Linked DNA regions of Homo sapiens. The protein of the gene in region 1 interacts with the protein of each later gene in a biochemical or structural test. Each region holds a gene or a part of one and is shown in the gene's direction. Other genes may lie near its edges.

Region 1 (5,457 bases):
TTCTCCTCCTCTGCCTCAGTTTCCTGCCTGATCTAACTGGGTCGGGCTTTTCTGCTGGTGATACAGGAATTTCTCTAAAGCTTCTCTTTCTCAACTTCTGAGTTCGGGGCCCCGGAAAGCCATCTGGCACCTCAGTCTCAGACTCCCCCCCAACAAGGGGGAGACCGCGAGGTCACAGGGACACCCCACCACGGGCACTTCCTCTCAGGCAGACGGGTGGGGTGGCCCGTGTAATCAGCGGACACAATTATGTGCTATTTATACTCCTTCCCCGCCCCCCCACCTGCCTGGCAACACAACCCTCCTCCTCCTCCTCCTCCTCCTCCTCCTCCGGACCTGGCTATGCCTCAGGCTATTTTCTCTGTCCTTCCCAAGCCATTGTCTCCCCATCTTTGTTCCTCTGGGCCTGTTTCTTTATCTTTTTAGTTTCTTTCCTGCTCTGTTTTTTGTTGTTGTTGTTGTTGTTGTTTAAAGCCACACATCTGGTCTTCTGTTTTCCTGTTTCCTCTCTCTTATACCTGGTGATATCTCTTCTGATTGTCTTGGACTCTTTCATTTGCTCTGTTTCTTCTTTTGCTGCTTTCTCTTTGTCTATCAGCCACCTGGTTCCCAAACCCTTCCCCTAAACCTTGGGTTCCCAGAGTTCCTTGAGGTAAATCAAATCATGGGGCTAGAATCCAGAACTCCTGGGCCCTACCCTGAAATTGGTGCCTACCTGCTGGCGAAACTGCTGTGCAACCCTCCGTGGACCTCCATCTGCTCCTGCCACCTCCCAGCTTTTTCTTTGGAGATCTGGGAGAGCAAAAGGAGCAAGGAATTGGGCACTCCGAGAAAGTGAGGGGATGGTGTTGCAGAGTGAGGAGAGTGGAAAGGATGGGGCTTTATTCCCCTGACAGGGAGAGCTGGGAGGGGGAGAAGTGTGTGTTAAGGAATAACCTGTAAAACAACCCCAGCGGGCTAAGCCCCCCTGTGGGAGAGCTGCCGGTGTCACCACTTAGCTGCCCAGTCCTCTCTCCCATAAATACCTCAGGGCCCATGGCCCAGGTTTCAGGTAATAGACTTTTTGGGTTTCCCTCCTAACCTGGCTGCCCTTCCTTCTCTTACTTCCTATTTTGTTGGGAAGTCCTTATTAAGTTCTAACTTCAGTTCTTTCTGTGGAAGAGGGAATTGATGCATGGCAATGAGAAAGGGAACCAGGAGTTCCCAGGAAAGTCAGATCACTCTGGAGAACTGTCCACCAAAGGATGGAGATTAAACCCATGGTCTCTAAGAGATGGTAACTTGGTTACCCAGGGATGGTAACTGACAAGGAATATGGAGGTTAGGGCATTTCTTTTTGGGGGAAATAATCCAAAGAGGTTAGGTGTCGGCATGAATGAGTTGACCCAATGACCTTCTACCGCCACCCTCACTCCTGCTTGTCTTAAATTTTCTCTTCATCAGAAGATCCAGGTTCTGCCCCACAAAGTGAGGTAGGCCTAGGTATCACCTCCAAACAGTGAAACTGAGGCACTGGGAGGAAGACTGAGGGACCCCCAAGCCAATACCAAGCCTTCCCCAACTCTTCAACCCTTCCTCCAGGCCTTGCTCTGGAACCAACCTCAGTGACACTAAAAGTTTAGGCAGCAGAAACCTCCACCTCAGAACCTTCCATGCCTCTTCCCACAACATACACACACACACACACACACGGGCACGTACACACACACAGGGGCACATACACACTGCTCTCCTGATCTAGAGGCAGGTGGGTGACTGGGGAAGCAAGCCTCTCCATGGTCAGCTGGGGCGGGTGTGGTGCGTGTGCCTCCAGTGCGTCACTGTGTGCATTTGTGTGTGTCCGTCTGTGTTCATTCATGATAGTGGCTGTACCCATGTGAGTGGTACTGTGTGTACGTGTGCATGCATCACCCCTGTGTTTGGCCATGAGTGTGTATGTCAGTGCGTTCCAGTCTCTCTGTGTGAGTGTCGTCCCCAACCCCCCATCCCCCCCCTGGATCTCTAATTAGTGGTTTGGGGTTTGTTCCTTTTCCCTCCTGTTCCTTCCCTCAGCAGCGGCGGGCGGCAGCAGCCTAGGCAGCAGCAGTAGCAGAAGCAGCAGCCGCCGAGCAGCAGCAAGGACTCTGGAGTCAGAGTAGGACTGTAGGACCGGAGCCTGAGTGGAACAGGAGTGGAGCTGGCCTGGGAGAGAGCGGATCCCTCCCAGCACCCTCAGGCCACCCGTTGCCTGCACTCTCCCTGCCAGACCTCCAGAGAGGAGAGACTCGGGACAGCCAGCCCCAGGTTCCCCCAGGTACATGACACTGGGGAGCTCTGGGAGGGGTGCCCACAGATGCCTATGGGACTGCTGCCGCGTGTAGGACACCGGGGTCCACCATCCCTTTAACCTCTCCCCTCAGCAGCCCCCCGAGGAAGCCCTGACAACTTGCCCATGCTGCTCTCCCCTCTTCCTGCTTCCCACCCCTTCCATGGGCGCCCCTTTTTCTCCTCTCCCTCCCTGATCCCTTCTTTGGGGAGCTCAGCAAATGGAGCAGGAAATTTGGACCCTCTGCCTCCCTCTCTCGCCCTCCTCATTGGATCTGGAGCCTTCTCCGCTGGGAAAGCTGTAATTAGAGGGTGGATCCCTACAGACAGAGAGCAGCCCCCCACCCCGGTCCCTTCTAACTTTAGATCTCTTCTCTCCCATTCTCCCATTCTCCCTCCCTCTCCCTTTTCTCTCTCTACCCCCCCCACCCCCCGGCTCAGCTCTCTCCATCTGCCTGGCTCCTTGGGACCCGTTCCCCAGCCTCAGGATGGCGTCCTCCCTGCTTGAGGTAACTGTCCCCTCTTCCCCCCAGGAAACCAGCCACAACCTTAATGGTCCTAGTCCTTGCCCACCCACCTCCTCCAACTCACATAGATAGTAGCTGTGGTGCTTGTCAATTCCAGGGGTCCTTCTGATGAGGAGAGAGGAGTGGGGTCCAAGAAAGGGGAAGCAGAGGGCAGGAGAAAAGGGAGGGAAGAATAGGGCCAGGGGTCAGAGGGCAGTGGAAAGAGGGTGAGAGGGGATTAGGTCAGAAGAAGGCATGGACCCCTACCTAAGGTCAGCTAAGCACACTGACTGTGAGGAGTGGAAAAGCGATGGAGAAAGGAGGGGGAGGGGGGCGAGGGGGAGTGAGGAGAGAGGGGTGGGAAATACATAAGCTGGCAGAAGAGATAGAAGGCAGAGAGGACTGGCTGAGTGGGCACAGAGCAGCAACTGGGTATAGCTCTTTAGGGGTCCCGTCTCCTGGGACTCGTAGCCCAGACAGGATCTTGCCTGGTTTTGTGGGGAGGGGGCTGGGCCCGTGAGCTGGTGTGTGGAGGAGAGGAGGTAGGCTATGAGAGAAAGGAGGAGGCCAGCCTGTGCCTGTGGGGGAGCTGACCAGGGGAACTGAGCCCAGGCCTGTGAGGGAACCAAGGAGGAGGGACGGGGTCTGAGGCCGCTTGCCCGGCTTACAAATATTTAGCTTTCAGCCAAAGACAAACTCAGCTCTATTTTGGGAGTGGGAGGCTCCAGGGCGGACTGGGCCACTTCCCCTCCGGGCTGGGACCCCAGCATCCCTTGCCTCTGGTGCTGGGGACAAAGGGAATTGGGGTACCACTGGGGTCAGGGTTTGGGGTCTTGAGAAATTTCTGACTCTACTCTGGCTTCTGGGGGACCCAAGGCACAGAGTTGGGAAGGCAGGGCTCACAGCCACTCAGGGCCAGATTCCTCCCTGCTTCTGGGTCTCTGACACTGTTCCTCTGTCACCATCTCTGTCCTGCTTTCTGGGTCTCTCTGCAGGAATTTAGGGCCAGAGGGCCCTCCCTGAAAGTCAGTCCCCTTCAGTAGCCTTGACTCTTCCCTATTCTTGGGTCCCACATCTCTCTTCCCAGTGCCCTAGCTCAGGCCCAGGGGTGCTGGGCCAAACAGGAAGCCAACTCACTCAACCTGTGGGAGAGGTGTGTGTTTGTGAGATGGGGCAGGAGTCTTTTAACACCTGTGTTCATTGGCCTGAGTGTAATCGTTAGGGTGCAGTCGAGGGTGCCACAGGCCCTGAGAGTGTGTGTGTGTGTGTGTGTGTGTGTGTGTGTGTGTGTGTGTGTAAGTTGGGCCATCTGAGTGCTGTGAGTCCAAGTGATAAATGGTGTGTGCACAAGGCTGTGAGATAGTGAATTTGTGGCTGAGTTTGGGGGAATAGCATGCAAGCCAACCAGATGGACACCACGTCCCTTGTCACACTCTGTATCCAGCCAGGGGTCTACCCGTAGCTGCAATGGGAGCAGACTGTCATCCTGCCACCTCCCCAACAGACTCTATTTTGAGCCATCATTGAAACACTGTGGTCTTGAGGAATAAGATGCATGGAAATCCTGGGTCCACCCAGGGCAGGGACAGTGTCAGTGGGCGTGGGCATCATGCCAGTGTTGCCAACGTGGCGCTGGTGGCTTGGGAGGGACTGGCCCAGAGGCCTGCTGGAAAGACATGGGATTGGGATAGTGCATGGCGAAAGGAGAGTGTTGTGGAAGCTAGACTTTCATGTCCCCTCACTCCTGTGAGCTGGAGATGCCTGCAACACGAAGGCACACCAGTCCCTCCTGTCCCTCGACCACTTGCACCTAGTTTTTGAGTACCTGGGCCCTCAACTTCCTCCCCACCTCCCCAGGAAGCCCTCCACCTTGTATGGGTGGGCTCTCTGGCAGTGGGAAGCAGCTGCTGCTTGATGGGGGGCTCACCTCGGCCAAGTGAGATTCAGGGGAACAGGGAAGGGGAAGAAATTGTTGGGGGCCTAGGTGGGAAAGGAGAATTGGGAAGCTGGGAAAACGAAGAAACTTGGGAGAAGGCTGAGAAAGTTGAGAACTGGAAAATGGGACCTTGACTGCTCCAAACCTAAGGCCAGTCAGCCCTGAGATGTCTAGTGAGCACTTCCGCTGGGAGGCCAGGCTGGGCACTGCACCATGAGCTCCCTGGGAGGAGGGGATCCCCCTCCCCTGCTCCACATCTGGGTGGGAGAGTTGGGACAGCTCCTATCTTGTTCTTTTTCCAAACACTCCCACTTCAATACTTTAATTCTGTTTGTCTTGTTTTGTTTTGTTTTAAGGGTGGTGGGGTGGAGGTCGGGAGGGAACAACTCGAAGGTGGGACTGCTGGGCCCTGGAAAGGGAACACATTTGATCAGGTATGGGGACACATGTTTAGAACTCTTAACCAGTGCTCTTTCCCCAAGTTCTCAGGAGAGAACAATCAGCAAGAGAAGGAAACTGAGGCTGTGGTGAAACTTAGCCACGTGCTCAGCCTGTAGCCCCCAGAGCATTCTGAGTGGGTCTGGTTCCTCGCTCCCCATTCCCTGCCCTCGAGGGCCCTCTGGGCCTCCACTCCCCAGGGCTGGGGTCTCCTGTTGGCCTGGGGCTGGCTGCCTTCTTTCACCCCTCCTTCCCTCCCCACAGCTGGGTGGG
Region 2 (3,787 bases), on another chromosome or scaffold:
CCTTCTAGAAAAAGCATCGAAATTCAGGGCGGCCGGGTGGGGCGGTTCCTGGAGCTGCTGGAGTCCATTGTAGCCACAGTCCTGAGTCTCAGGCGGAGAGAGGGGTGGGGGGTGGATGGATGGACCCCCATCCCCATCCCAACCCTGCCAAGAAACAGAGACACAACCAGGATGTGAACTCACGTACACCACCATCACCGCCAAGATGGGGATGTAAGTGTCCTGTTCACACCGATGTCCAGACCCACGACCATCGACGAGCCTACAGACCTACGGACACAGGAAACCGACGACTTGTGTTCACACTGTCACACACACCCATTAACACACACGCACCTCTTGAAATGGGACACGTATATTGGTGTAGGCTTAGCGACACAGCAGTACCTCTTTGACGCACGTATGGACACAGGAAACTGTGGACTTGTGTTCACAACCACCCCCAGCGCACACATAAACACTCACAAACCCCTCGAGATGATACAGATAGCGACGAAGGCACATGGAGACCACGACACCTCCCAGACTCATGGAGCCCTGAGCACATGCTTGGATACAGGTAGACACAAATGTGTGTTCACCCCCACACATGCTCACATGGACCCAAGGACGGACAGGCGGATGGATGGATACACATCTTTACACAGAGACATAATGCAGTTGGCTCGCTCAGGTGTGTACACAAATAACTTTTCTTTTTCTATTTTTTTTTTTTTTGAGACGGAGCCTTGCTCTGTCGCCCAGGTTGGAGTGCAGTGGCGTGATCTCGGCTCACTGTAACCTCTGCCTCCCGGGTTCAAGCAATTCTCTGCCTCAGCTTCCCGAGTAGCTGGGATTACAGGTGCCCGCCACCACGCCCGGGTAATTTCTGTATTTTTTAGTGAAGATGGGGTTTCACCATCTTGGCCCGGCTGGTCTTGAACTTCTGACCTCGTGATCCACCTGCCTCGGCCTCCCAAAGTGCTGGGATTACAGGCATGAGCCACTGCACCCGGCCACAAATACCTTTTCAAACACACACACACACACACACACACACACAAATATGCACCAATGCGTGCTTCCCCCTCCTTGCCACAGGGATAAAAAGGCAAACATGCCGACATTTGCTGACACACACAAAGACATACATGGCCGCACACACGGATACACCCGCTCTCAGACACGCAGCGACCTACGCCCATTTTCCTGGCCATACAAGCAGCCGAACGTTCCTGTACTTCTGTATCTGCATAGCTCCCCCAACACTCCTTCCATGGGAGGGGGATGGCTGGGGCTTCCCTGATGCCCCCTTCCCCCAGCTTTCTCTCTGGGTCACTCTGGCCACCCCTCTGTCCCTGCGAAGCTATAGCTCTCTGTCCCTGCTCCGGCCTGGTGCCCTGTTTTCATGGCACTTGGCATTTTCTCTCCGGCTCTGGCCCTGCCTGATTCATGCCCACTGCTGGGGTGGGAGGTGTGCCCAGGTGTGGGCCGGGATGGGGTAGCTCATGAGATGAGCTGGGGCTCCGTGAGATGTTTTGATGCTGGGCCGAGCTCAGAGCCGAGGGCTCTGCCGGGAACAGGGTGCTCCAGTCTCTCTAGGGCCTGGAATGTCTTGTGTAGCCTCAAGAGCTCCCAGACGGAGGCTGCGGGAGCGGAGTCAAGGGCTAGGCTTTGCCGTCAGACAGAAATGGGTTCGAGCTCCAGCTCTACATGTTCTAATCTTGCGACCTGAAGCACAGGATTTTCCTGGCCTGTAAAATGGGCAAAAACCAGTGTCTATCTCTTGGGCTGTACTTAGGTTCAATGTGGTGCCTGGCACATAGTGTGTGCTCCATAAATGGTAATTGTTGCCAATTGTTGGTTGTCAACCTCCCAGACCCTCCCAGCTGAGAGAGGGATGCCTCTGAGGGGTAGAAGACAGGATCGAGCACCTCCCAACCATAGATATCCAAGTGGACTGCCTGGAGGAGGAGGAGGCAAGAGGAGAGTTTGGAAGGATGAGAGTTTGCACATGGCCCAGCTCTTTTACCTTTGGATGGGGGCCTGTAGGCCAAGCAGAGGGTGGCACAACTTCAAGATAGGGGAGAGATGGTGGGGGAGAGTGGGGGGCAGGAGGGGAGAGACGAGGCCTCCACTGTTCCATGAGGACCAGATACCCTGGTTGGGGGCCCTGAGTCCTGGTATAAGAGTATGTGTGCACGCATTCATCCAAATGTATGTGGGACAAAGAGACCCGGTGCATCTAGATGATGACTTCAGGGACGTCCCCAAGCTCCAGAACTTTCTGTGTCTGCACCTGGGCGTTGTCACCTGGACCCGCCATGGAGACAGGACATATGTGCAGGACCCTATGGTGGGCACTTGGCTGGATCAGGGCACATTGCGGGTGGGAGCAATGCTGGGTGTTTGGCCGTGGCGCCGTGGCTGTGGGCAAAATGCCCCCGTGGTTGGTGTGTTGACTGCCGTCCTCCCCATCTAACCCACAGGGAGCCTGGCCTTTTAAATCTGCTGAGATATTGTCTCCCCCACCCCCATGAAGCTGGAATCTGGGGACTTGCTGGACCAGAGAGGTAGGGGAGGCTGGGCACTTTCTCCAACACGGTGCTGAGAATGGGCCTTCTGTCCCCTCCCTCCCAGCTGGGGTGGGGAAAAGGAGGGGGGTGTCTTAATTTTCTTGCCCCCAAAGCCCTGGATGTGGGGGCAAGTGGGCCAGGAGGACAGCTGTGAGCCACTATCTGGGTTCTCCCAGATCGGTGTGCATGTTAATCGGCATGTCAGGCCTCAGAGCCACCATTTTCCCGAGGATGTCTGTGTGGCAGCGTGTGTCTGCCCGGGTCCCTCTCCATGCCTCTCCATGTCTCCCAGCGTCCATCACTGGGTGCTACCTGCATGTGACTCCACGGATCATCGCACGCCCTGTCTCTTGTGTATTTGGTAGTGGGGGTCGGGGAGCGTGCCACCATGCGTGTCAGTGTGCCGGATGTAGTCTCTGTGTCACGGTGGCGCTGCGCACGTCAACGGGTATTGGTGTACCGGTCACCATCTTTGTATCTGCGCTTTGTATCTGGGGTGACAGTGTCCCAGCGACATGCGTCACATCTACAGCAGTGTTTTTCTGGGTGTCTGTGCGTCACGGCAAAGAGTGTATCCGTGTGTCTCACACACGTGTTGGCCTGTCCGTGTCAACTTGTGTCCACATACGTGTCAACGCACGTGTCTCCAGTGTCATCACCCTCATATCACTGTGCCTCCTGAGCTTGTCCCCGTGACAATCACTGTGGGTCTCACCCCACGGGCGCCTCTCCTGGGCATTCCCTTGGCCTCCGAGCACCATGTGAGATGCCTGCTATGGCGGCCGGGCAAGCGGCTGGGAGCGGGCTGGCTGCTCAGTCCCTTCCCATGAGGTTGAGCGGCCGCAGTGGCCTTGCTGGGGGCCCCGCCCGTGCCCCTGGCCTGGCGTGGACAGAAGCCCGTTGTGCGGCAGCGAGGTGCGGGCGTGTGTTCGGGCCGCCCACAGGCCTCCCTCTGTCTGCCCGGCGCACATTGATCTTGGCTTCTGCCTGTGTCCGTTCTAGCCTGGCCAGCTGGGTGTCCGGCTGTCTCCGTGGGCCTGAGCCCACTATCCCCGCTGCCCCCACAGCCAGGCAGGCCCTGGGCCCCACACCCCTGGGCCACCCGCCATCCCTCCGAGGCTCTGAGGGCGCGGATTTGGAAACTGAGGTCCCCCCTTCTTTCCCCCTTTCTCTCTCTCTCTTTCCTCCCTCTCTCCTCCCCTCCTCCCCTCCTCCCGCTCCCTCTCTCCCTC

The links. Proteins that work in one complex are often made in the same cells at the same time.
Region 2: the proteins of SP7 (region 1) and NFIX form a complex in vitro, tested with the Homo sapiens proteins (one study listed by BioGRID).

Annotation. Positions count from the first base shown.
Region 1 is NC_000012.12:53,332,982-53,338,438, reverse strand, and holds the start of SP7 (transcription factor Sp7), read left to right. Parts: upstream 1-2,084; 5' UTR 2,085-2,293; intron 2,294-2,662; exon of another isoform or gene 2,663-2,745; 5' UTR 2,746-2,792; coding exon 2,793-2,813; intron 2,814-5,457. UniProt on the Homo sapiens protein: Transcriptional activator essential for osteoblast differentiation. Binds to SP1 and EKLF consensus sequences and to other G/C-rich sequences.
Region 2 is NC_000019.10:12,998,475-13,002,261, forward strand, and holds part of NFIX (nuclear factor 1 X-type), read left to right. Parts: intron 1-3,787.